Homo sapiens: one gene and its partners. The protein of the gene in region 4 purifies or fractionates together with the protein of the main gene of each other region. This does not show direct contact. Each region holds a gene or a part of one and is shown on either strand. Other genes may lie near its edges. The genes, in order: GSPT2, LIMA1, YWHAE, GAB2, MARK2, FERMT2 and STK38.

Evidence for each region.
Region 1: the proteins of GAB2 (region 4) and GSPT2 purify together in Homo sapiens (co-immunoprecipitation; one large-scale study listed by IntAct). This does not show direct contact.
Region 2: the proteins of GAB2 (region 4) and LIMA1 purify together in Homo sapiens (affinity purification with mass spectrometry, with the first as the bait; one large-scale study listed by BioGRID). This does not show direct contact.
Region 3: the proteins of GAB2 (region 4) and YWHAE purify together in Homo sapiens (affinity purification with mass spectrometry; 4 studies listed by BioGRID and IntAct, with this or other methods). This does not show direct contact.
Region 5: the proteins of GAB2 (region 4) and MARK2 purify together in Homo sapiens (affinity purification with western blotting; one study listed by BioGRID). This does not show direct contact.
Region 6: the proteins of GAB2 (region 4) and FERMT2 purify together in Homo sapiens (co-immunoprecipitation; one large-scale study listed by IntAct). This does not show direct contact.
Region 7: the proteins of GAB2 (region 4) and STK38 purify together in Homo sapiens (affinity purification with mass spectrometry; one large-scale study listed by BioGRID and IntAct). This does not show direct contact.

What each region holds. Positions count from the first base shown.
Region 1 is NC_000023.11:51,741,992-51,746,241, reverse strand, and holds GSPT2 (eukaryotic peptide chain release factor GTP-binding subunit ERF3B), read right to left. Parts: upstream 2,801-4,250; 5' UTR 2,616-2,800; coding exon 729-2,615; 3' UTR 10-728; downstream 1-9. UniProt on the Homo sapiens protein: GTPase component of the eRF1-eRF3-GTP ternary complex, a ternary complex that mediates translation termination in response to the termination codons UAA, UAG and UGA.
Region 2 is NC_000012.12:50,277,021-50,280,520, forward strand, and holds part of LIMA1 (LIM domain and actin-binding protein 1), read right to left. Parts: intron 1-3,500. UniProt on the Homo sapiens protein: Actin-binding protein involved in actin cytoskeleton regulation and dynamics. Increases the number and size of actin stress fibers and inhibits membrane ruffling. Inhibits actin filament depolymerization.
Region 3 is NC_000017.11:1,355,223-1,358,722, forward strand, and holds part of YWHAE (14-3-3 protein epsilon), read right to left. Parts: intron 1-3,500. UniProt on the Homo sapiens protein: Adapter protein implicated in the regulation of a large spectrum of both general and specialized signaling pathways. Binds to a large number of partners, usually by recognition of a phosphoserine or phosphothreonine motif.
Region 4 is NC_000011.10:78,218,821-78,222,320, forward strand, and holds part of GAB2 (GRB2-associated-binding protein 2), read right to left. Parts: exon of another isoform or gene 3,376-3,500; coding exon 3,285-3,375; exon of another isoform or gene 2,960-3,284; coding exon 2,857-2,959; exon of another isoform or gene 1,969-2,856; intron 1,625-1,968; coding exon 1,499-1,624; intron 596-1,498; coding exon 452-595; 3' UTR 1-451. UniProt on the Homo sapiens protein: Adapter protein which acts downstream of several membrane receptors including cytokine, antigen, hormone, cell matrix and growth factor receptors to regulate multiple signaling pathways.
Region 5 is NC_000011.10:63,845,610-63,849,109, reverse strand, and holds part of MARK2 (serine/threonine-protein kinase MARK2), read right to left. Parts: intron 1-3,500. UniProt on the Homo sapiens protein: Serine/threonine-protein kinase. Involved in cell polarity and microtubule dynamics regulation. Phosphorylates CRTC2/TORC2, DCX, HDAC7, KIF13B, MAP2, MAP4 and RAB11FIP2. Phosphorylates the microtubule-associated protein MAPT/TAU.
Region 6 is NC_000014.9:52,941,051-52,944,550, forward strand, and holds part of FERMT2 (fermitin family homolog 2), read right to left. Parts: intron 1-3,500. UniProt on the Homo sapiens protein: Scaffolding protein that enhances integrin activation mediated by TLN1 and/or TLN2, but activates integrins only weakly by itself. Binds to membranes enriched in phosphoinositides.
Region 7 is NC_000006.12:36,526,980-36,530,479, reverse strand, and holds part of STK38 (serine/threonine-protein kinase 38), read left to right. Parts: intron 1-3,500. UniProt on the Homo sapiens protein: Serine/threonine-protein kinase that acts as a negative regulator of MAP3K1/2 signaling. Converts MAP3K2 from its phosphorylated form to its non-phosphorylated form and inhibits autophosphorylation of MAP3K2.

The DNA of each region.
Region 1 (4,250 bases), on a different chromosome or scaffold from region 4:
AGCCTTTCATTTTCAAATCACAAGTGGGGAAGCAGAAGAGCTCCTTTATTGACTGGACTTGGACAGAGAAAACAAAGCCCACTGGGAAGAGCCTTAACATACGTTTTTTTCTCAAAATTAAAATTATTCCTTTAATACACACTTATGCATTGTTTGTAAATTCCTCACTTAAAACAGTAAGTGGTGAAGAGTTTTTAAGTTTTTAAGTGATAGAACATATTCAACTATTTGAGAAAGTAATAAAGCTAATTGAATAGCATTACATAATGACATTTAAACATTATTCAAAAGCATTTCAAATAACCGAAGAGTTTCAAATGGAGTATTTTATTCACATGTTAGTTATCATTTTAACACACACACAAACACTGACACACTCTGGTTTGCGTGGAACAAGGGTGGTCTAAATATCCTAAAAGAAAATGAAAAATTAAAGTACATTAATTTTTCATTACTGTAGGCAATTACGTCCACATCACTTACAAAGCTATTACTGATATTGTCCAAGGAAGCAGAGTGGTACAGAGGAAGGAAACTTGAGGGTAAATTCATCAGTGACATAACAGATCTCAACATGAGAAAGCTGACAAAACATGAATTTTTGCTGTGAAATTTCTCTTTGCAAAATATGAAGAAAAGTCAATCAATGGGCAGTAAATAAGAGTAGGTGGTGAACTTTTGCTGTCAATTCTCCTCACAGTATCTTGCAGAGGCATCAAGAAAATTGCTTAGTCCTTCTCTGGGACCAATTTCAGAACTTTTCCAATTGCAATGGTCTTACCCTCATCTCTTAAAGTAAAACGACCCATCTGAGGAAAATCTTTGAACGTCTCGAGGCAGATGGTTCCTGCTGTCCTTAAACGAGCAATGCATACTTGATCTTGTTTCACGAAGCGGGGTCGTGTCTTACTTTTTTCTCCTGATTTTTTGTCTACCAAGGAGATTAACGCTGTTATCTCAACTTCCTCAATACAAGTATGAATGTGCAGCACCGCATTATAACCTGGGCAGATGATGGATTTGTGCTCAATAATCACTATCTGAACATCAAACGTGCGTCCAGAATGGCAGAGGTTACTAGGATCACAAAGTATGAATCCTGGAAGAATCTCTTCTTCTTCAATTCCCTTCAGTCTGATTTTGAGGTTTTCACCTGGGGCTACAAAATCAGTTTCAGTATCATCAGAAAGTATTCCAAGAACTTCTACATTGTGCTTGTTTGGCATCATCACGAGCTGCTGGCCTTTAAAAATGGACCCGGATTCCAGCTTTCCCAGGACCACAGTGCCCATATCTTTGTACTTATCCACAATTGGCAGTCTTATTGGTCCATCAATTGATCTGTTGAAGTTTGGCAAGTTATCCAAATACGGAATAAATGGTAATCCAGTGTACCAAGGGCAGAAATCTGACTGCTCTTTAATATTTGCTCCGGTCAGTCCTGAGCAGGGCATAAAGTGAATGTCCTTTTTTGGACTGAAGCCTACTTTTTTCAAAAAGGGCACCAGTTTTTCTTTACATTCTTCATATCTCTCGATGCTCCAATTTACTGTGGGATCATCCATCTTATTAATAAGCACTATTAAATGTTTTACCCCTGCCGTTTTTGCCAACATCGCATGTTCTCTTGTCTGTCCACCTTTTTCAAATCCAGTTTCAAACTCTCCTTTCCTGGCAGAGATGACCAGCACAGCCAAATCAGCTTGAGAAGCACCACCAATCATATTTGGGACAAAACTCTTGTGGCCAGGGGCATCTAAAATTGTGAAATGTTTCCTTTCTGTTTCAAAATAGGCACGACCCACTTCGACTGTTTTACCCTTGTCTCGTTCCTCCTGATTTGTATCTAAGGCCCAGGACAAATACCAGGTTTCTCTGTTTTTTTCCTTAGCTTCTCTTTCATATTTCTCCAGTGTTCTTTTGTCAACCATTCCAGTCAAAAACATTATCTGTCCTCCGATGGTTGACTTGCCAGCGTCTACATGGCCAATGAATACTACATTTACGTGTTCTTTCTTAGGTGCACCTGAGGGTACGATCACAGATTTGGATTTTCTTATTTCCTCTTTTTCCTCCATCATTTCCTGGCCACTTTCTTCTGGGGGCCCTGAATCTCCCGAGGAACCACCCCCAGGCTCGGCTTCACTTACTTCTTTACTGTGCTCCCATGATTCTTCTAGGGCCATTTCCACCTCTCCATTTTCTACAACAGGTTCTGAAAGTTCCATGGTAACGGCTGAATTGGAACCTTCAAGCGACACTAACGGTTCCTCTCGGGAAGGTTCCACAGGTGCCCCCCGTCCCATCCTTTTACCTTGAGGGTATCCCGCGCCGGTGCAGGTTTCATCGTTGCTGCCGGAGCCGGCCGGGAGGGTGGGCGGCTGAGTCGGGCCCCGCAGGAAGGACGGCACGAACTCCGCGGCGTGTACGTTAGGCACGAAGGGCTTGGCGTTGACGTTGAGCTTACGGCTGAAAGCCGAGCTGAGGGGCTCGCGCTGGGCCTCGGCCACCGCAGAGGAGACTCCATCCCCGCTCGGGGCCGACCCCGGGGATTCCATGTCCACCTGGTCCCAGCAATCGGGCGCCGAGTCGCTGCTGCTGCTGCCCGAATCCATGGTCTCGGAACTTGCTGTGTGGCAGTGAGGGAGCGGGCTCAACAGGCCAGAAGAGCGGGCTCCGCCGGCGGGGTTAAGGCAGCAAGAGCGAAGGGCCAAGGGGTAGCGACACGAACCTTAGCTGCACCGCGGAGGCAGCTAAGCGCCGATGCTGCATTCGCAACTGCGGCGGCAGCAGCAGATATGGCGGCTCAACACTCTCCTCTTGTGTGTGAGCGGATCTCCTCCCCCAAACCCCAACCACTTCCGACTCCTCCACCCCCGACCCAACGCCGGGCGTGGATTGACCCCTCGCTGCTATCCGTACGCTTGGCTTCCTTACTTCTTCTTAGCCACGGGCTAAGTCCAAAAGTATTATTTTTTAAAACGAAAATTTCCATTCACTTTTTTGTTCACACAGTCTGGCAGAGCAATTTGACCACAATCTGATGATTAAACCTAGACAGGAACACATGGTATACAATTCTACCAAAAGATTCAAGTAAAAGTGATCATTTCTATTGAACAAATGGGAGGCAAGATAAGGGTTAACTATACAGAAATTCAGAAACCCAGCAACTGAAGGGAGAGGCAAGGAATGGGTAGGGAGGGACTCATGAAATATATGAGTCTGTAGCCGAACTTAGGAAATGCAACTTAAGATCACTCATTAATTTGAAATCCACAGGCCTTTTGATTTTCCCTTTCCAGTGGGCCCCCATAAGCCTGTAACTTCTGCTGATGGCTTCTATAGTTTAAGGATAGGGTTACAACTTCTTTTCATGTTAAGCACCCTGGCTGTCTGAGGGGAGAGAATTTCCAAGGAGATCCTTGTTCCAGTGAAGCTTCCAGTCACTTCATATGCAGATGCCTGCACAATGGCTGGCCTGCCATTCAATGGTGGATCACGTAGACAAGCACAGGACTCAGATCACTCTTGTTTTACCAACCAACTGAATTCTGGGTTTATCTGCACTACTCCCCAGCACCTCCCTAGTACATCCTGCATCCACAGGCCTCGGGTTTTCCTGCTTCATTCCGGGGGGCCTGGAATCCTACTCACTGCACTGGCTTTGCTCTAAGAAACAATCAGTGTCATGTTGAACCCCTCTACAGTTTATGGTAATGAGACAGGGCTGTAGGTGTCAGCCTAATTAAACCAATTAAGACTTCTGAGATGAACAAAGACCTTAAGACCCTAATCAAAAGAATCTCACTCTCAGAAAGTGTTAACAGTTGAGTCAAAGCCTCAGCGACCTTGTTTGTAAATTAATTTAGTGCAAACTGACATAGAAAATACAAACTTATTCTCTGAATCTGTTTTTAGTCTTCATGTACTCAAATCTGTCACCTTTTGCTTTTATGAATTCAGGTTTTGTGACATACCTAGAAAGACTATTCAGTCCAAACAATCTGCTTAGTACAAGATGGTGTCACATAGATGGATTTATTTTTTTATTTTGAGACAAAGTTTCACTTTTGTTGCCCAGGCTGGAGTGCAGTGGCATGATCTCAGCTCACTGCAACTTCTGCCTCCTGGGTTCAAGCAATTCTCCTGCCTCAGCTTCCTGAGTAGCTGGGATTACAGGCGTCCGCCACCAAGCTCAGCTAATTTTTCTTAATATATATTTTTAGTAGAGACAGGGTTTCACCATG
Region 2 (3,500 bases), on a different chromosome or scaffold from region 4:
GAAGTAGAAGAAGTTGTTAAATAACTTGCCTTGGAGACGTACACCCTCTAGTCACAAAATGAGACATTTTTCACATACATTGTAGATAATCGAGTTTTGTGGCACAGGTCAGCAGGGCTTCTGTGATTTTATCTTACCAGTTTCCAAGTGTCAGTCTATGGGAGTGCCTAAAAAAATACCAATCTTTTTGACTTCTTTTTTTTTCTTTTCTTCCCCCAACCCCCACAGCAAGAACCCCATTCAATTTTTTTTTTATACTTCTATTTTCCTGAAAGTTAAAGGGCACAAACAAATTAAGCTGTCCCCAGGCTCCCCTTGCTACTCCGGTGGACACTGCCTTTACTGCATCCAGTCTTTCCTCAGGCTCTATATATCTAAAATTAGGTGAAAGGTTAGAGATGAGACAGAAAGTAATTCCAGAATGTCTAGTGAACAGTAGTAGCTCCAAAGGCATCCTTTCAGCACAGAGGTTGTCCAGTCTTGGGGATCAAAAGCCCAACCCTCTCATTTTACAGATGAGGCTCTGAGTCAATGAATCAATGACTTGTCCAAGATCACCTGATTGGTTGATGACAACATTAAGTTGGGAATCCTGACTCTCAAATAGCACCCTTTCCATTCTGCAGTACTGCTTCATTGATCACAAGCTCTGGCCCCTCAAAACAATGGGCATTTATAACACCACAATTCCAACTTCTGTATACTTTCCACTTTGTCACTCCATTCACTCTATTTGGTCTAATAAAAGCCTGTGCTTCCCCCACAAAACGCTCCAAATAAAAGAATACCAAACAAAAAACCAACATAATTAAAATGTTAACGCCCAAATAAAAATGGGAGTGGGATTAACCCAGACATAATTCACAGAAGAAACAGAAATGAATGTATGAAAAATGTTCTCTCTCACTAGCAAAGAAATACAAATTAATTCATTTCTGCCTATCAAATTAGTAAAGATTAAAAAATAATATTCGGGCCGGGCGCGGTGGCTCATGCTGTAATCCCAGCACTTTGGGAGGCCGAGGTGGGCAGATCTCCTGAGGTCAGGGGCTTGAGGTCAGCCTGATCAACAGGGTGAAACCCTGTCTCTACTAAAAAACACAAAAATTAGCCAGACGGGCTGGGCGAGGTGGCTCATGCCTGTAATCCCAGCACTTTGGGAGGCCGAGGTGGGCGGATCACAAGGTCAGGAGATTGAGACCATCCTGGCTAACACGGTGAAACCCCATCTCTACTAAAAATAAAAAAAAAAATAGCCAGGTGTGGTGGCGGGCACCTGTAGTCCCAGCTACTCAGGAGTCTGAGGCAGGAGAATGGCATGAACCCGGGACGTGGAGCTTGCAGTGAGCAGAGATCGTGCCACTGCACTCCAGCCTGGGCGACAGAGCGAGACTCCATCTCAAAAATCATCATAATAATAATATTCAATGTTACCAAGGCCGCACTAAGATGGGCACTCACAATCACTGCAGTTGAGAATGTTAATTAGTCTAATCTTTACAAAAAGCAATTTGGGAGCAGGTTTAGTATTTTTAAATTTTCACACTCCTTGACCTGGTAATTCAACCTCTGGGAATCTAACCTAAGGAAATAATGAGTCATTTGCACAAAGATTTATGCATAAATTTGTTCTCAATTGTTTTCATTTAATGTAAAACCAAAACACAAATAAATTATGCAACCTCAATATAATAAATTATTAAATAGATTACAATGGAGATTAAATATCCATTTAAATGTTTTCAAAAATTTTTGATGCTATGAAAAATAATATAAAGCAAAAAAAGCAGACACAAAACTATATCTACTGCAACAGTATGAGTTCAATTACCTTTGTGTTTATGTGAGTGTGTGTATATCAAAGAAAACAAAACCACTGAAAGGAAATATATCAAATGATAGATCTCTCTGGAACAGATTATGGAATATGGGTTATTTTGTCTTCTTTATAATTTGTTTTTTCCACATTTTCTTTTTTTCTTTTCTTTTCTTTTTTTTTTTTTGATATGGAGTCTTGCTTTGTCACCCAGGCTGGAGTGCAGTGGCATGAGCTTGGCTCTCTGCAACCTCTGCCTCCTGGGTTCAAGGGATTCTCCTGCTTCAGCCTCCTTAGTAGCTGGGACTACAGGCATGCGCCACCATGCCCAGCTAATTTTTGTATTTTTAGTAGAGATGGGGTTTCACTATGTTGGCCAGGCTGGTCTCGAACTCCTGACCTCAAGTGATCACCCGCCTCAGCCTCCCAAAGTGCTGGGATTACAGGCATGAGCCATCACACCCGGCCTGTTTTTTCCACATTTTCTATAATAAACATATATAATTTTTATTTTATAATAATATAAATATCTATAATTTTTATTTTTAAATGTGTTGGCATATATGAAAATAAAACAATTATATATACAATATGAAAGAAGTTTTTTAAAAAGATAAATTTTCAGGCCACTTACATGGAGGTGATAGTGGAAGTCATGGAAAGAAATCAGATTATAAAGGGAGAAAGTATAGTGAGAATAGGAAGCTGAGCAGGGCTATGGTGAACCCGGCATTTAAGGGGCAAAAAGACTGAGTTAATGGATCATGGGAGTAAGTGGTTAGATTAGAAAATGGAGAACCAGATAGTAGTCATGTCAAGAAAAGCAAATGAAAGGAAGAACTAGACAAGTTGTTCACTTGGTCAGTTATTGCCAAGGGGTAAGGACCGTTAGACAGAAACCACTGGATACTATGCATGGACAGACAGCTTTCCTGTAGTGCTGGAAGCCAAATTTTTGCTCAGACGCCAAAGCTGAGCAAATGTTACCTGTTTAGTAAAACTGACTATGAAATAAAAGAAGTCCCGGGGCATTAGCTTGAATTTCAGTTTATGGAGAAAAAAAAGATTGTGGAAATCTAAAACTAAGTAAAGCGGATATTGGGACTAATTTATGGGTAATGAAACAAAAATGGCAATACTTTGTGCAAGACAAAACATATTTGAAGGACTGTAAAGTTTTCCATATCATAAACTCTGTTACAGAATAATTAAGGGGGAAAATAGATCCACACTTGTTATCAGAAGTACAAAAAAGTTGCATCTTTTTTTCCCCTAAAGATGAAAGTTCTTAGTTTCAGGGTAGTAGTATTTTTTTTTTTTTTTTTTTTTTTTTTTTGAGACGGAGTCTCACTCTGTCACGCAGGCTGGAGTGCAGTGGCGCGATCTCCGCTCACTGCAAGCTCCGCCTCCCGGGTTCACGCCATTCTCCCGCCTCAGCCTCCCGAGTAGCTAGGACTACAGGCGCCTGCCACCACGCCCGGCTAATTTTGTTTTTGTATTTTTAGTAGAGACTGGGTTTCACCATGTTAGCTAGGATGGTCTCGATCTCCTGACCTCGTGATCCTCCCGCCTCGGCCTCCCAAAGTGCTGGGATTACAGGCGTGAGCCACCGCGCCCGGCCCAGGGTAGTAGTATTAAGAAATTATTTAAAAGAACATCAAAAGAATGTAAAATTTTCATGGTA
Region 3 (3,500 bases), on a different chromosome or scaffold from region 4:
GTAGGCTAAATGCAAGCTCCGCCTCCTGGGTTCACACCATTATCCTGCCTCAGCCTCCCGAGTAGCCGGGACTACAGGCGCCCGCCACCACACCCGGCTGATTTGTTTTTATATTTTTAGCAGAGGCAGGGTTTCACCGTGTTAGCCAGGATGGTCTTGATCTTCTGACCTCGTGATGTGCCCGCCTCAGCCTCCCAAAGTGCTGGATTACAAGGTTGAGATATTTAACAAAGTATTAATGCAAAAAGAAAATCTTGGACAATACCTCAAAGTTTAAAAAAATTTAATTTCACGTTAATGGAGGCAGGGAAGCAAAGAAAATAAAAGGCAACACAGACGCCATGGAAATGTGATTATGTAAGCCATTTACAGTTTTAAAAGAAAATCCACACTTACTGAGTACTGTGTACTATGTCCAACAAACGATACGATATACCAATAGAAAAAAAAGAGACATAATCTAAGTCCACATCAACTTAAAAATTTAGAAATGGAGGGTAGACAAATACATAACTATTTTACAAGGAGGAGGCTGGCTGTGGTGGCTCATGCCTGTAATCAGCACACTTTGGGTGGCTGATGCGTGCGCGCAGATCACTTGAGGCCAGGAGTTCAAGACCAGCCGGGCCACCATGGCAAAACCTATTAAAAACACAAAAAATTAGGCCGGGTGCAGTGGCTCAAGCCTGTAATCCCAGCACTTTGGGAGGCAGAAGCGGGCGGATCACGTGGTTAGGAGATCGAGACCATCCTGGCTAACACAGTGAAACCCCGTCTCTACTAAAAATACAAAAAAATTAGCCGGGAGCAGTGGCAGGTGCCTGTAGTCCCAGCTACTTGGGAGGATGAGGCAGGAGAATGGTGTGAACCCAGGAGGCGGAGCCTGCAGTGAGCCGAGATCACGCCACTGCAGTCCAGCCTGGGCAACAGAGCAAGACTCCGTCTAAAAACACACACACACACACACACACACACACACACACACACACACACAAAATTAGCCGGGCATGGTGGCGTATGCCTGTAATCCCAGCTACTCAGGAGGCTGAGGCAGAAGAATCCCTTGAACCTGGGAGGCGGAGGTTGCAGTGAGGTGAAACTGTGCCAATGCACTCCAGCCTGGGCAAGAGAGCACAAAAACAAAAGAAGAAGAAGAATGAAGTGCTATTCCAAATAAAGTATTTCAGGGACCCAGAAGGAGGAGCAATTAAAGGGAAAGTCAAATTTGAACTAATCTCAATGGATAAGGAGAAAACAAAACACACTTCAGGTTTAAGCAGAAGCATGAGCAAAGGCATGCGAGTGACTTTAAACTGGAGCTACACGTGGGACAGCTAGACTGGAGTCTGACAAGGAAAGGTGCAACCACCAGTATTAGCTAAATAGCCACAGCTTCTTCAGTTACGATCCCTATCTGGACAAACTCAACTAGCCATTTAGAATGTTTTTACATTGGCTGGGCGCAGTGGCTCACGCCTGTAATCCCAGCACTCTGGGAGGCTGAGGCAGGTGGATCACCTGAGGTCAGGAGTTCGAGACCAGCCTGACCAAGATGGTGAAAACCTGTCTCTACTAAAAATGCAAAAAAAAAAAAAAATTCAGTCAAGCGCAGTGAAGCATGCCTATAATAGTCAACATTAAAGTTCCAATGTATCAGTTAATCCCCTTTCCTCAAACTTTGAAAGGCTTTCACTTAAAAACCCTACTTTGCTTAAGCAGTTGTCCTCAAACAAACCAAAAAAAAACACATACAAAAACCAAAAGGGGCCGGGCGCGGTGGCTCACGCCTGTAATCCCAGCACTTTGGGAGGCCGAGGAGGGCAGATCACGAGGTCAGGAGATCGAGACCATCCTGGCTAACACAGGGAAACCCCATCTCTATTAAAAATACAAAAAATAGGCCGGGCGCGGTGGCTCACACCTGTAATCCCAGCACTTTGGGAGGCCGAGGCGGGTGGATCACGAGGTCAGGAGATCGAGACCATCCTGGCTAACACGGTGAAACCCCATCTCTACTAAAAATACCAAAAATTAGCCGGGCGTGGTGGCGGGCGCCTGTAGTCCCAGCTACTCGGGAGGCTGAGGCAGGAGAATGGCGTGAACCCGGGAGGCAGAGCTTGCAGTGAGCCGAGATCGCGCTACTGCACTCCAGCCTGGGGGACATAGCGAGACTCCGTCTCAAAAAAAAAAAAAAAAAAATACAAAAAATTAACCGGGCGTGGTGGCGGGTGCCTGTAGTACCAGCTACTTGGGAGGCTGAGGCGAGAGAATCGCCTGAACCCAGGAGGCTGAGCTTTCAGTGAGCTGAGATCACGCCACTGTACTCCAGCCACAGCAGCAGAGTGAGACTCCGTCAAAATAAAAAAAAAAAGCAAAAAAACCATTTTGCTACTGCAATATTTACTGTAAAAATTTAAAATAGGCTGGGTGCAGTGGCTCACGCCTGTAATCTCGGCACTTTGGGAGGCCGAGGTGGCTGGATCACTTAAGGTGAGGTGTCCAAGACCAGCCTGGCCAACACTGTGAAAACCCATCTCTACATAAAAATACAAAAATTAGCTGGGTATGGTGGCGGGCGTCTGTAATCCCAGCTACCTGGGAGGCTGAAGCAGGAGAATCGCTTGAAACCGGGAGGCAGAGGTTGCAGTGAGCTGAGATTGCACCACTGCACTCCAGCCTGGGAAACACAGCGAGACTCTCCTCTCGGGGGAAAAAAAAAAAGAAAAAGACAATAGCAAAAAACAACAACAACAACAAAATGCCAACCTACAGAAGAGGAGAAAATACTCACAAACCATTTACTTGCTAAGAGGTTACTATCTGGAATAATGAACTCTCAACACTTAACAAACGAAAAAAACATGAATTCAAAAATGGGCAAAAGGGCCTGGTGCAGTGGCTCAGGCCTGTATTCTCAGCATTTTGGGAGGCTAAGGCAAGAGGATTACTTGAGGCCAGGATTTCAAGACCAGCTTCGGCAACACAGCCAGACCCTGCCTCTACAAAACAAAACAACAAAAAAAAATTTTTTTTTTGAGACGGAGTCTCGCTCTGTCGCCCAGGCTGGAGTGCAGTGGCGTGATCTTGGCTCACTGCAAGTTCCGCCTCCCAGGTTCACGCCATTCTCCTGCCTCAGCCTCCCGAGTAGCTGGGACTACAGGCGCCCGCCACCACGCCCGGCTGATTTTTTGTATTTTTAGTAGAGACGGGGTTTCACCACGTTAGCCACGATGGTCTCGATCTCCTGACCTCGTGATCTGCCCTCCTCGGCCTCCCAAAGTGCTGGGATTACAGGCGTGAGCCACTGCACGCAGCCCAAAAAAAATTTAAAAATTGGCCGGGCGCAGTGGCTCATGCCTGTAATCCCAGCACTTTGGGAGGGAGGCTGAGGTCAGGAGTTTGAGACCAGCCTAACCAAGATAGTGAAACCTCGTCTCTACTAAAAATGCCCCCAAAAATTAGCCAAGCATGGTGGCACATGCCTGTAATCCCAGCTACTT
Region 4 (3,500 bases):
TGGGTTGGTGAGACTTGTCTTCTGGGACTGAAGGAGAGGTAGCCCAGTGGCCGGAGGGAAGATAGCTGAGGGCTGTGACTGAACGTGAGGTGTGGAATCTGGCTCAGAGCCCCAGCCCTTCCCTCCAAACATCTGGTAGAGAGTCAGGTCTAAAGGACAGGAAGAGGCTGAAGGATGCTTTTTGGAAGTAGCTCCTAACTAAGGTGGGTGGAGGCATGGCCATTACTGATAAAAATCACAGCTGGGCCCCGAGTGGGCAGAGGAGGTGCCTTGATCAGGCCCTCACCTCCCAGGGGAAGGGTTCAGGGTCCCTGATGTCAAGTGCTTTGAAGGCTGAGACTGGCAGAGTAGAGAGGAGGTGGATGGGAGGAAGAACGGGAGAGGGGAGAGGGGAGATGGGAAGGGCCAGCTCTGGAGATGCTGCCTCCTGGGCTCTGCGGTGGCCCTCTCATCACAGCTTGGCACCCTTGGAAGGCTCTGAGGACTGCCGCACGTCTGTCCACTCCTGCATGGTGTTCTGCAGGGCCTGGGTCTTCTCCTTGTCCACCTGAACGTAGTCCACCTTCTCATCAGAGGTGACGGATGAAGTAGATGGCTGAGGGGACAGAGTGGGAAAGAGGGAGTAGCTGTGAGTTACCAGTTAGGTGGGGAGGAAGAAGGTGGGCACGGGATCTTCCTGAGCTGTCTGAAGGGGAGAAGAGCATGGCCTCTGCCTGCCACTGACCAGCCTCAGGAGCCTGGCTTCTCTTTCTGAATGTGGGCTTTAAAGCTCAGACTCCAAACTCATCATCCCTCCTGCAGGATGTAGCAGCACCTGCCAGCCCTTCTTACTTCCCGGCTTCTGGGAGGACCCAGGCCCTTCCTTGGCCCTGGTGGATGGGTCCAGGCCTTCATCTCTGCCTCCACCCATCTCTGTCAGGTCGCTCATCCAGGGGAAGGAATTTGCTAGGTGCAAACAAACATCAGCCACAGGACTTTACGTGCTGTGCTCACTGCCACCCTGTGAAGGGGAACCATGCTGAGGCACAGCTCTGCACCCTTCTGTCTAGACTGCTTAGCTATAAGGATGCCTCCTGGGGAGGCTTTCCCAGGCCTGGAAGTCCCTTCTGAAGGCTGATGTATCGACGGCAGGGCTCTGGACCCACTCGAGAGCCCAGGACCAGGAGGCAGTATCCTCATTCCTGGATCTGTTGCTGATTCACTTTGTAACCTTAGGACAATCAGATCTCTGTGCACTCATTTGCCCATCTCTACAACACGGGGGATGGGCTGACTGATGAGGTTCTCTGACTGAGGGTACTGTGCTCTGAGAGCAGGAATAGGAGTCTTTAGACCTAGATGAAAGCTCTATGACTAAAGATGCATCATAAAAGCTGGGTACTGGAGCAGGAGGGAGGCTGAGTGCTGCTGTTCAGTGTTGAAGGCACCCTGGCCTCCATGATCTCTGCCTCCGGGACCCTGAGAGCTCTTACTGCCCCCCCAACTCTACTCCAGGCACCTTGCGGTGGGGGCTTGGGGAGCTCGGCTGGAAGTCCAGGGCCAGATAATCAACGCTGCCGGTGCTCTTCTTAGGGGCAGGACTGTTCGTGCCACTGGGAACGGGAGATGCAGACACTGGGTTTTGCTGTCACGAGGAGGAAAAAACTGTGAGTGACTGCAGAAAACAGACTAACCCACCACCCAGAAAAACACCTCTGGGAGTAAGAACACTGTTTCCCTGAGCCCTACTCTGACACATGCACCATGCTAAGGACTTTTCATGTTTTCATTTTAATCCTCATGACAATCCTGTAAGGTAGGTATGATTACTGTTGATACTGTTTAAAGCAAAGATGAAACTGTGGTTCACTTTACTTTCAGAGAAGTGACTTTGCCTGTGGCTGCACAGCTGTTGAGTGATGGGAATCAGGTCTGTTTTCTGACTTCCAAACCTGTGCTAACCCCTGTACCACACTGCCTCCTTTCTAGCACATCAGGCCAAGTCTCATCAACAGTGGCTCTCCTGAGACATCCAGCCTTTGCTTGCTGGCGCTTAAGAAAGGAGCACATTTCCTTTATGCACTGGAAAGTTTTCTTCTGTCGCACCAAATCAGCCCCTGTGAAACTCCCACCTGTGGCCTAGAGTGGGGTAGTCACCCCAAAGCAGCTTGCTCCCCCGCCTAGCTCCTCCAAGATCTGAAGAGGGTGGCTTCATCTCCAGGCTGCACAAGCCCGCATTTCTTCAGATGACACGCTCTAGGATCCTGTCCATCCAGGCTCGTGCTCTAGCAGAGCACCACCTCCTCTAGAACTTTCTGGAAGTCTTATTCTAATGAGAAGGTGATAGTCCTGTGTTCTGTTTGTTGGCTGCTTTACTGGTTGGTTAATTCATTCTTTCACTATCTATGCAGTGACTACCAGGTGCTGGGCAGTTACGCCCTTAATGGAAATCTCAGGGAAGAAATATCCTCCTCTGCCTGTGTTGATAGCTCTATTATGGCCTCACCAAAGTGAGTTATGTGCACGTATGCCTCTCACCACTGAGGAGATACCTCCACCACTGAGGAGATACCTCCAGCACTGCCTATCCAAGGGCACAGATCATGCCACCCATGTCACTGTCATGAGAGGCAGGCCCCTGCTCTTGAAGACCATGACTTCGTTGGGACAGGTCTCATGTCTTCCTTACATCTGATGACAACTCCTACTGCTTGATAAACAGGTGCTCAAGAAGGGTTTGTAGCAGGAGACTAAATCATGAATAATACAAGGAGTCCCTGGGCTGAGGTGAGTTAGCTAAGCTGGGAAGTGGGGAACTGAGGGGTGGGTCCCAGGGGACTTGAAAGGCGTCATTCCAGCGAAGCCCGAAGGACTCACCATAGGGACATAGTTCTCTTCGCTGTCTCCTGAGTCTGTGCTGGTGATGCTCTGGGTGGAGATGGGGCGGCAGTACTGGGAGGAGCTGGAGTTGAAGGTGTGGCTGTTGTGGGAAGGAAGAGTTAACACTGGGGAAGCTGCATGGCTGCTGCCATGTTTCTAGCCTCCAGCTGGGCCCTGACCCTCACACACCCAGACCTCAGCCATTAGAGCTGCACACTCCATCAGATTAAGATCTGATATAGGGCAGGTATAATTATTCTCTTTTACAGCTGAGGAAACCAAGCCACAAGACATCGAGACATGATCAGCTAATGATAGCGTTAGCATCAGAATCCAGCTGTCCCGGCCCACAGGCCAGCTACCACATCACTCATTTTCCCTAATGGCCCGACTCCAAGCTCCCACCCCCACACATACGCACTTACTTGGCCCTAGACCAAGACTTGGTGATAGGTGACTTGAAGGGGAGTTCATCGATGACGGTGTTGTTCCTCAGGTCAAGTGGTGTTGGCTTTGCTGGAGCAGGAAAAGAAAGTCTGGTAATCAGCCAGTAATGATAATGCTACACATACACACCTTATATATAACACATGAGCATGTTTATAAAGGCCTGCAAAGTCATTCCAGTTTCACACAGGGAA
Region 5 (3,500 bases), about 14 Mb from region 4:
CTTGAGCCTAGGAGCTATTTGAGGCCGCAGTGGGCTATGATCACACCACTGCATACTAGCCTGGGTGACAGGGTGAGACCCTGTCTCTTAAAAACACCAACAAGGTCAGGCGCGGTGGCTCACGCCTGCAATCTCAGCACTTTGGGAAGCCGAGGCGGGCGGATCACGAGGTCAGGAGATCGAGACCATCCTGGCCAACATGGTGAAATCCCATCTCTACTAAAAATACAAAAATTAGCCAGGTGTTACAGCCGGGCACGGTGGCTCACGCCTGTAATCCCAGCACTTTGGGAGGCCGAGGTGGGTGGATCATGAGGTCAGGAGATTGAGACCATCCTGGCTAACATGGTGAAACCTCATCTCTACTTTAAAAAAAAAAAAAGTACAAAAAATTAGCTGGGCATGGTGGTGGGCGCCTGAAGTCCCAGCTACTCGGGAGGCTGAGGCAGGAGAATGGTGTGAACCCGGGAGGCAGAGCTTGCAGTGAGCTGAGATCGCGCCACTGCACTCCAGCCTGGGCGACAGAGCGAGACCCTGTCTCAAAAAAAAAAAAAAAAAAATTAGCCGGGTGTGCTGGCACATGCCTGTAGTACCAGCTACTTGGGAGGCTAAGGCAGAATTGCTTGAACCTGGGAAGCGGAGGTTGCAGTGAGCTGAGATTGTGCCACTGTACTCCAGCCTGGGCAACAGAGCAAGACTCCGTCTCAAAAAAACAAAAAGACACAACAAAAAGAAGGTGGAGAAAAAAGGCAGCCGCACATGGGATATCAGAAACCAAAGCAAAACTCATACTGAAATGGTAATCAGAAGCAATGAGTAGCTCACTGTAGTATCAACAGGGGCAACCAGCCCCCAAGGACAAGGTCTAGGCTGGAGCTCTGTCAGCAGGTAGTTACACTCACTAATTACTAAACGTTCATATTTTGGCATTTCCTGCTTAGCTGGGAGACTGGGAAATAATCCTACCTGGCTGGCCTTGCTCCCTGAGAAAGACTTCCTAGTGCTATTGCAGGAAGTGTCAGCACACATGGTGACCGGAAGCTCCCACCTTTCCTACAGGTTGTTTCCTATGGCTGAAGTCCCTGTAAGCTGCCAAAGAGCAAAAACTATTTTTTCTCTCTTTTCTTTCCCAGCAGGCCTGGACAGACAGTCCCATTGCGTGGACGAAAAAAGGCCTGGGATGTCACTGAATTTAGCAGCCAGATCATAGCAGTAAGGAGTCCTGATCCCCTCCCAGACCCATAAATGAGGAGCCAAAGGCAGACCCAGTCCCTTCCTCCTGGCTAGGCTGAGGGTCTTTCACCAAGTTGTGAATTGGGAAGGGAGTCCAAAAAAGGAGTTAATGTCTTAGAGCTTTCAGTGAAAGGTGTATAAAGCAAAGCTGCCTTCAGGTTCAGCATAGGGTGGAGAGAAAGCCTCCTCCCTGGAGTGAAGGACCAGCTCAGAGACCCATTCAGTGTTTGGGGAGAAGGGGGTTGTTGACAGATAGTTGTCTTCCAAACTTTCGCCTCAACGAACACAGCCCCAAAGGAGGCAGACCTTTGTATTGCCAACTTCCCAAAGAGCACACAAGAAAATAGGCCAAGGCTGCCCAAAACCAGCTTGACTGGTTCTACAGAGAAGCCCCTGGTCTGCTCCGCCTTCCTCATGTTAAAAAGAAAAAGGCCAAAAAGGTGGCTGGGAGCCAGTCACTGAACACAGCCCTCCTCTCTTTCTGCCAGGCACCAGTTGTCCCTCAGGATCACCTAGCCACCAGTATCAGTGTCCATCTCCCCTCCTCTCCTACCAAATCTTCTGTTCATTTAGTTTTATAAGCCTAAAATTAATGATTTGGTGTAAAAAGGAAATGAATTTACTTTTGCCCTTTTTGCCATTTTCTAATGAGAAATGTAAGGAATAACTGCAAGTAGGGGGAAATAAGTGCCAACCCAAAGACAGACATCTGCGGAAAGAACCACCACAGGGACTGACAAACCTTATTTATCTTGAGATGGGGTCTCACTCTGTTGCCCAGGCTGGAATGCAGTGGCATGATCACAGCTCACTGCAGCCTCAACTTCCCAGGCTCAAGTGATCCTCACATCTCAGCCTTCTGAGTAGGTGGGATACACGCATGTGCTACCACACCCAGGTAACTTTTTAAAAATTTTTTTGGGCTGGGCGCGGTGGCTCCCGCCTGTAATCCCAGCACTTTGGGAGGCCGAGGTGGGTGGATCACGAGGTCAGAAGATCGAGACCATCCTGGCTAACAAGGTGAAACCCCGTCTCTACTGAAAATACAAAAAAATTAGCCGGGTGTGGTGGCGGGCACCTGTAGTCCCAGCTACTCGGGAGGCTGAGGCAGGAGAATGGCGTGAATCCGGGAGGCGGACCTTGCAGTGAGCCGAGATCGTGCCACTGCACTCCAGCCTGGGCGACAGGGCAAGACAACGTCTCAAAAAAAAAAAAAAAATTTTTTTTGGCCAGGCGGGGTGACTCATGCCTATAATCCTAGCACTTTGGGAGGCTGAGGCAGATCACGAGGTCATGAGTTCAAGGCCAGCCTGACCAACATGGTGAAACCCCATCTCTACTAAAAATACAAAAATTAGCGGGGTACAGTGGCGTACACCTGTAATCTCAGCTATTCAAGAGGCTGAGACAGGAGAATCACTTGAATCCGGGAGGCGGAGGTTGCAGTGAGCTGAGATCGCACCACTGCACTCCAGCCTGGGCAACAGAGCAAGACTCCGTCTCAAAAAAAAAATTTTTTTTTTGTAGAAATGAGGTCTCACTATGTTGCTCAGGCTGGTCTTGAACTCCTGGGCTCAAGTGATCCTCCTGCCGTGGCCTCCCGAAGTGCTGGGATTACAGATATGAGCCACCACACCTAGCTTGAGAAACTTGAAACATTCCAGACAAAAACAGATATGAAGATAAAGGGATCTAGCCTATTTATACTTATCAGAGGAGGAGATGTCTAGAGGGCAAGAGGAGGAACTGGGATGCCTCCTCCTCTGAGACACAACTGGAAATCAAGAGGCCAGATTCTCTCTGGGTGCTGTTTAGAATCAGCTGTACTATCTCAGTCTAAAAGATAAGCAATGATGCCGGGCGCGGTGGCTCACTCCTGTAATCCCAGTACTTTGAGAGGCCACGGCAGGCGGATCACTTGAGTCCAGGAGTTCAAGACCAGCCTGGCCAACATGGTGAAACCCTATCTCTACTAAAAATACAAAAAGTGGCCAGGCATGGAGGTGCGCACCTGTAATCCTGGTTATTTGGAAGACTGAGGCATGAGAATCGCTTGAACCCAGTAGGTGGAGGTTGCAGTGAGCTGAGATCCTGCCACTGCACTCCAGCCTGGGTGACCAGAGCAAGACTGTCTCAAAAAAAAAGACGAGCAATGACCTTCAATGGCCTATAACAAAAAGGAAGGGGGCGGGTGGCAGTAACATTCTGCTCAGGAGTTAGCACTTTCAGGGTTAACCTGGGGATAGCCTGGCTCTCCAGCAGTGGGA
Region 6 (3,500 bases), on a different chromosome or scaffold from region 4:
CCTAAAACTGGGAGTAACCCAAATGCCCTTCAATTGCTAAATGGACAAACTGTGAAATAATCCATTCAATGGACTACTACTCAGTGATAAAAAACTATTGATACAAACACATGAACGAAGCTAACATGTATTATGCTAAGTGAAAGAAACCAGATTCAAAGAGCTAGAACTGAATGGTTCCATTTGCAGGCCATTCTAGAAAAGGCAAATTATCACTGGTTTTTAGGATCTGGGTTTGAGGCGATGAGACGGTTACAAAGGAAACTTTTGGGAGTACTGTAAAAGTTTTCTATCTTGACTGTGGTAGTTTTACATGTCAAAACTCAGAATATTATACTAAGAAGGATAAATTTTACTATATGTCAATCAGACCTCAATGAGCCTGACACTAAGAAAAAAAATTAACAGGAAAAACAATTATATAGTAATTATGCAACTAATTTGTTAAAGAATGAATTATAACGAATATGAATTTGTAACCACAAACCCAAGTGCAGAAGTCACACTTCTTAATTACAAAATAAAAGAATTATTTAAAAATACACTTTCAGATGTATTTGTTTACTTCTCACTGGGCATATATACCAATTTTAAATGTTCCATGGCATAAGCATTAATTTGTCAGTAAAATAATTATTTAAATAGGAATACTGCATACATTAGCTTTTTTCTGAAACTACTTTCATTAGTTTCTAAATAGGCCCAATGTTTTCATGTGCCTTTGCTATAAATGAACTAAAAACACTGCTCTTATAGAATATATTAAGTAGAGAATTAATTTACTACTGATGCTTTCATGGTTTTAGATTTTTCAAATACCTGGAATACCATCATCCACTTATTGGTCCCCTGCATTTCAGAAATCTTATTAAAATGGTACTTAAATAGCTCTCTTACACTGCAGAGGCAGGTGTGTGTTTGGAAGTTGGCGGGAAAGTAAAATGACAGCTATTTTTTCTTGTTGTTTAGAGGGTGGGAACAGAAAGCAATCCTAAACTAAGCTTTTTTTGAGGAGTGCAATTCCCCACCAGTAAAGCTGGAACTTATTAAATATACTAGATTATATTTTAACCTACTTTTCCTTTTTTTCCTTCCTACTTTCATATACTCAGAGACTCAATGCCACAGAGAAGTATCCACTCTCATTTGCATAACACAAATAGTTTATATAAAGTATATATACATGTAGTATCAATATATATGTATTATCTCATTTAATTCTCACCAAAACCTGTGAGAAAATGTTTTTCTTTTTCTTTTTTTTTTTTTTGAGATGGAGTCTTGCTCTGTCACCCAGGCTGGAGTGCAGTGGCGCGATCCCGGCTCACTGCAAGCTCCCCCTTCTGGGTTCACACCATTCTCCAGCCTCAGCCTCCCGAGTAGCTGCAACTACAGGCGCCCACCACCACGCCCAGCTAATTTTTTGTATTTTCAGTAGAGACGGGGTTTCATCGTGTTAGCCAGGATGGTCTTGATCTCCTGACCTCGTGAGCCACCTGCCTCGGCCTCCCAAAGTGCTAGGATTACAGGCGTGAGCCACCCCGCCCGCCCCAAGAAAATTTTTTTCAATTTCTATTTTATAGAAGTCAAAACCCACTCAGGTTGGATTCATTGTCCAAAGGTCATACTAACCAGTAAAGTAGCAGACAGAGCCAGAAGTTGAATCCAGATCTTCTGACACACTAGGCAACCTGTTATTTCTTAATAATCTGTGCCTCCATCAGCACCTACTACAGTCTGAGAACAGCTGACATTATGGGAAACCTACATCCAATGATGTCTAAAACTATTATTAACAGCTTATTTAATAGTAAGCTAAGAAGTAAACTAAATTTTAAAAATAAAGTATGTGAAAAAGAACCTATAAAAATATCACTCTTGGCCAGGCGTGGTGGCTGATGCCTGTAATCCCAGCACCTTGGGAGGCCGAGGTGGGCGGATCGCCTAAGGTCAGGAGTTCAAGACCAGCCTCGCCAACATGGTGAAATCCCATCTCTATTAAAAATACAAAAATTAGCGTGGTGGCGGGTGCCTGTAATCCCAGCTACTTGGGAGGCTGAGGCAGGAGAATCACTTGAACTTGGGAGGCGGAGGTTGCAGTGGACTGAAATCGTGCCACTGCACTCCAGCCTGGGTGACAAGAGCAAAACTCTGTCTCAAAAGAAAAAAAAATCACTCTGAAGTGAAATTTGCACTGATACTAAGAACCTTATTTTAAAAAGGTTAAACAATGTCTTAAAAGACCAAGGCTGAGGAACTGTTCTACAGGGTGGCCATAAAGTTTACAAACAGATACTATCATTTTACATGTATCTTAATGTAATGTCAATAAGCCATTTATTATATAATCTCCTGTAGCTCCACACTTGGTGGCTGTTCTGTATATCAAAGGAGATTAAGAGGCCCTTTCAACTAAATGCGAAATGAGATTCTGGATGGGAAAAAAACAAAGGCCATTATTGGGACAACTGGCAAATTTTGAAAATGGATGCATATTAGATGACAGAAGTGAATCAATGTTGAATTTCCTGAATGTGATCACTATACTGTAATTATGCAAGAGAAGTTTCTTGTTCTTAGGTGATACATATTTAAATATTTAGGAATCAAAGGTTATGAGTAAGTCTGAAACTTCATCCAACTGCTCCCCAACATGTGTATGTTTGTGTGTATAGAAAATTCAAATGGCAAAATACTAACTGGTGTCTAGATGAAGATTACGCAGTGTTCACTCAATTACTCTTGAACTTAGATGTTTGAAACTTTTAAAAATTAAGAGCCAAAGATAACAGGTAAAATTTTACATATTTTCTTTCCATTCTCTTCAATAGCGAGCGATTAGACATTTCCAACAAGGCCTTTTATAAGTAATTGAATAAACATATTTTTAGCATCTCTATAAATAAGTTAACTCTAGTTGGAAACAAACAGTTTTTTACTTTAAAAAACTGGGTATAAAACATAGCAGCAAAACAAAAACAAAAGGCAGCAAATAGCACATACTCTAAGGAATAGCTCATACTTTATTAGCTGTCACAGGATTACAGTAAAACTTGAGTACTGTCCTCCACTTTTAAAGAACTTAAAATTTGCTAAGAAACTGATACAATTTAATTCACTTCCTATGGATCATGAACAGTGTTTTAAACACTGAGTAAACTTACTATCAGATTTAACCAAAACTTAATTCACTTTAATAAGATTTTAACATTGTTTCCTACTCCACCCCCAAGATTTAAAAAAATTTCTTATAATGTTAATGTATTTCACTATGAATGCAATGAGGATGCATCATGTAGGCATTAATTTCCATGAATTCAGTTGTGAGCCCTCAAGGGGAAAAACTAAGGATTTCAACTGCATAGGCACCATTCCACCAAATAAGCACACACCTTCCCCAGGGAGCACTAAGCCAGGGTATAAGGGAGCTGTCCAGTTACGTATGCCTCTTTCCCAGTGTGCATCTTGCCAAGCTCTAATCCTAGTGTTTAAAGTATTTT
Region 7 (3,500 bases), on a different chromosome or scaffold from region 4:
GGCAGAAGAATCACTTGTACCCGGGAGGCAGAGGTTGCAGTGAGCCGAGATAGTACCACTGCACTTCAGCCTGGGTGACAGAGTAAGACTCTTGTCTCAAAAAAAAAAGTATTTATTAGACATTTTCTGAATTTTAATCATGGAGATGTAATCACAGCCCTTTCCCCTCCCCCTCCGCTCCCCTCTTCTCTTCCTGACAGAATCTCGATCTGTCGCTCCTCTTCTCTTCTCTTTTCTTTCTGACAGAATCTCGCTCTGTCACCCAGGCTGGAGTGCAGTGGCACGATCTCAGCTCACTGCAACCTCTGCCTCCCAGGTTCCAGAGATTTTCCTGCCTCAGCCTCCTGAGTAGCTGGGATTACAGGCACGTGCCACCACGCCCGGCTAATTTTTGTATTTTTAGTAGAGATGGGGTTTCACCATGTTGGCCAGGCTGGTGTCCAACTCCTGGCCTCAGGCGGTGTGCGAGCCTCAGCCTCCCAAAGTGCTGGGATTACGGGTGTGAGCCACCATGCCTGGCCCTATTTCTGTTAAATACACTATTTTTCCTGGTTTTCAGTGTCTCACCAAAATACTGTCTGTTTTCAATTAGGGTGGAATAGCCCTATTCTCTCATCCCTGCTACCTCCAAATCAGGCTATGCCAAGAGGGGACCCTAAATTAGATTAGAAAAGGGGGCTAATTGTAAGTAGTAGTCATGAATGTGTCTGCACATTGCTATACATTCTGACTTTTTAAAATTTAGCAGCATACATTTAGAAAGTAGCTGTGTACAAAGCACTATTCTTAGTGGACATAGGGAATTCAGATATAGTCCCTGCCTTCAGAAGGACTTACCACTCTCTCATATAAGAAATGAACACACACGCAACTAAATGGAACACATGGAAGGCATCACTGGGGTGAGGCTGGATATGGCCTCTAAGTGTGAAAGTGGCTTCGTCTCTCTCCTAGGGTTCTGGTTTTGAACATTGGAATTGAAGGGAAGAGTGGCTCCACCAAGGGCTGGAGTGTTAGTTAACCTGGCACTGCTACCAGAGAACATGCCTGTGTGGAGAGTCCTGCTATTCTTTTTCATTATGAACAATTTTAAACATAGGTGGAATAATATAGTGACCCCGTTTCAATATATTCATCCCTCAGATTTAATAATTTTAGGGCTTTGGTACATTTTCTTCATCTATCCCATTTTGTTTTTTCTTGCTATTGTGTTTTAAGGTAAATTCCAAACATCTGTCATTTTAATCCTACATACTGTCAAGTATGCATTTCCAAAAATATGGCCATTTTCTTGCATAATGCAAATGCCACCATGAATCTAACCAAGTTAACAGTAATTCCTTTGATGTCATCTCACAGAGGATGTCATTTTTAAGTCTCATTTCAGGCTGTCCTTGCTGTTTTTGGTGTCCTCAAGGTCTTTGTGGACCTGGTCCTAATTGTTATCATGGATAGGCTTTTTTTTTCTGGATACTTTCTCTAATGAAATAATCTGATTGTGTTCAAGGAGTTAACTTCACTCTCAGGCAGGTATTCTGCAACCAATTTAATTACACTTCAGTAAACCTGTGGAAAACCTCTTAGTTTGTATTTAGGTTTAAAATATAATTAGAAGGAGCCACTTTTGTGACACAGTGGATAGTGCATTGGACTGGTAGCCCATTCTGATGTAGTCATTCAAAAACGTGTAGTCAGGACGTATGATGGTGTTTAGTACTCAAGGCACAAAAAGAGCTGACCACAGCTGTGTTCTTAGAGCTTTTGCCTAGCATGTTATGCTTTGACTTTTCTTGTTCTTCTCTGCTTCAACTACCTAACCACTTGCAATGGAATTAATTTACACTCCCGAAACTACTAAGAGTACAGCCTTTTCTCTCTAATACATGTGCACGCATAGATGCACATGTATCCCAAAATATTCTGGGAACTGGGAGAACTGTTCGTGTTCCTCTCTCTGTTTCCTGTCTTGATTAGTGGCATCATATCCCTCTAGACAGGAAATTCTAAGGTTTTTCTCTTGACTCCTATTGCCAGTTGGTCATATTTGCAATAGCTCTATTCACTTCATTCTAGTTTTCCTGCCCTAGTTCCAGATCTTTACTGTACATCTGAATCATTACAATAACTCTCAACTAGCCTCTTTCTCAGTTGCTTTCCCTGCCAGTCCATCAGATCCTCATTACTGCTGGTTACCATTCTAAAATAGAAATCTTATCACATCACTCCTTTGCACACAAGCCTCTTTTAGCACTCAGTTGTCTACAGAATGAGATCCAACCTTCTTGGTGTGGCATTTGTAGTGCTGTGTGCGTCAGCCACAATGGACTACATGCTATTTCTGCAGCATACTGTACACTCTTTTTTTTTTTTTGAGATGGAGTCTCGCTCTGTTACCGAGGCTAGAGTGCAGTGGTGCGATCTCGGCTCACTGCAAGCTCCGCCTCCTGGGTTCACAACATTCTCCTGCCTCAGCCTCCCGAGTAGCTGGGACTACAGGCGCCGGCCACTACACCTGGCTAATTTTTTTTTTTTTTTTGTATTTTTAGTAGAGATGGGGTTTCTCTGTGTTAGCCAGGATGGTCTCGATCTCCTGACCTCGTGATCTGCCTGCCTCAGCCTCTCAAAGTGCTGGGATTACAGGCGTGAGCCACCGCACCTGGCCAGCATACTGTAGTCTTATCCTTCTTTGCTCTGTTTGTACACATTGCCTGTTTATCTGGAATGCTGATGAGTGGTGGAGGAGAGATTCTAGCCCATGTGCTTTCATTTATTGTGCTGAATAAATGAAGGTTCTGTGGAATTGGTTGTAAGGAAGTTTTACTTGCTTCTTTTAGTTTTATGAGACTATAGATCAAAAACATTACTGCATGTACTTTCTAAAGTTCAGTATTCCAAAAGTTTGATGTCTGAAGGTTTTTTTTTTCTTTGAGGCAGAGTCTCACTCCGACATCTGAGCTGGAGTGCACTGGTGTGCTCTCGCCTCACTGCAACCTCTGCCTCCCAGGTTCAAGTGATTCTTGTGCCTCAGCCCCTCCCAAGTAACTGGGATTACAGGCACCTGTCACTATGCCCAGCTAATTTTTATATACATATATGTGTGTGTGTGTGTGTGTACTAATATATATACATATATTACATATATGTGTGTGTATATATATGTGTGTATATATACGTATATACATATGTGTATATGTATATATGTATACATGTGTACATATATACATATGTATACATGTGTATATACATATAAATATATATATATATACATATATTTTTTTTTTTTTTTTTGAGACGGAGTCTTGCTCTGTCACCCAGGCTGGCATGCAGTGGCGTGATCTTGACTCACTGCAACCTCTGCCTCCCAGGTTCAGGCAATTCTTCTGCTTCAGCCTCCTGAGTAGCTGGGACTACAGGCGCTCGCCACCACGCCTAGCTGATTTTTGTATTTTTAGTAGAGACAGGGTTTTACTATGTTGGCCAGGCTGGTTTCGAACTCCTGA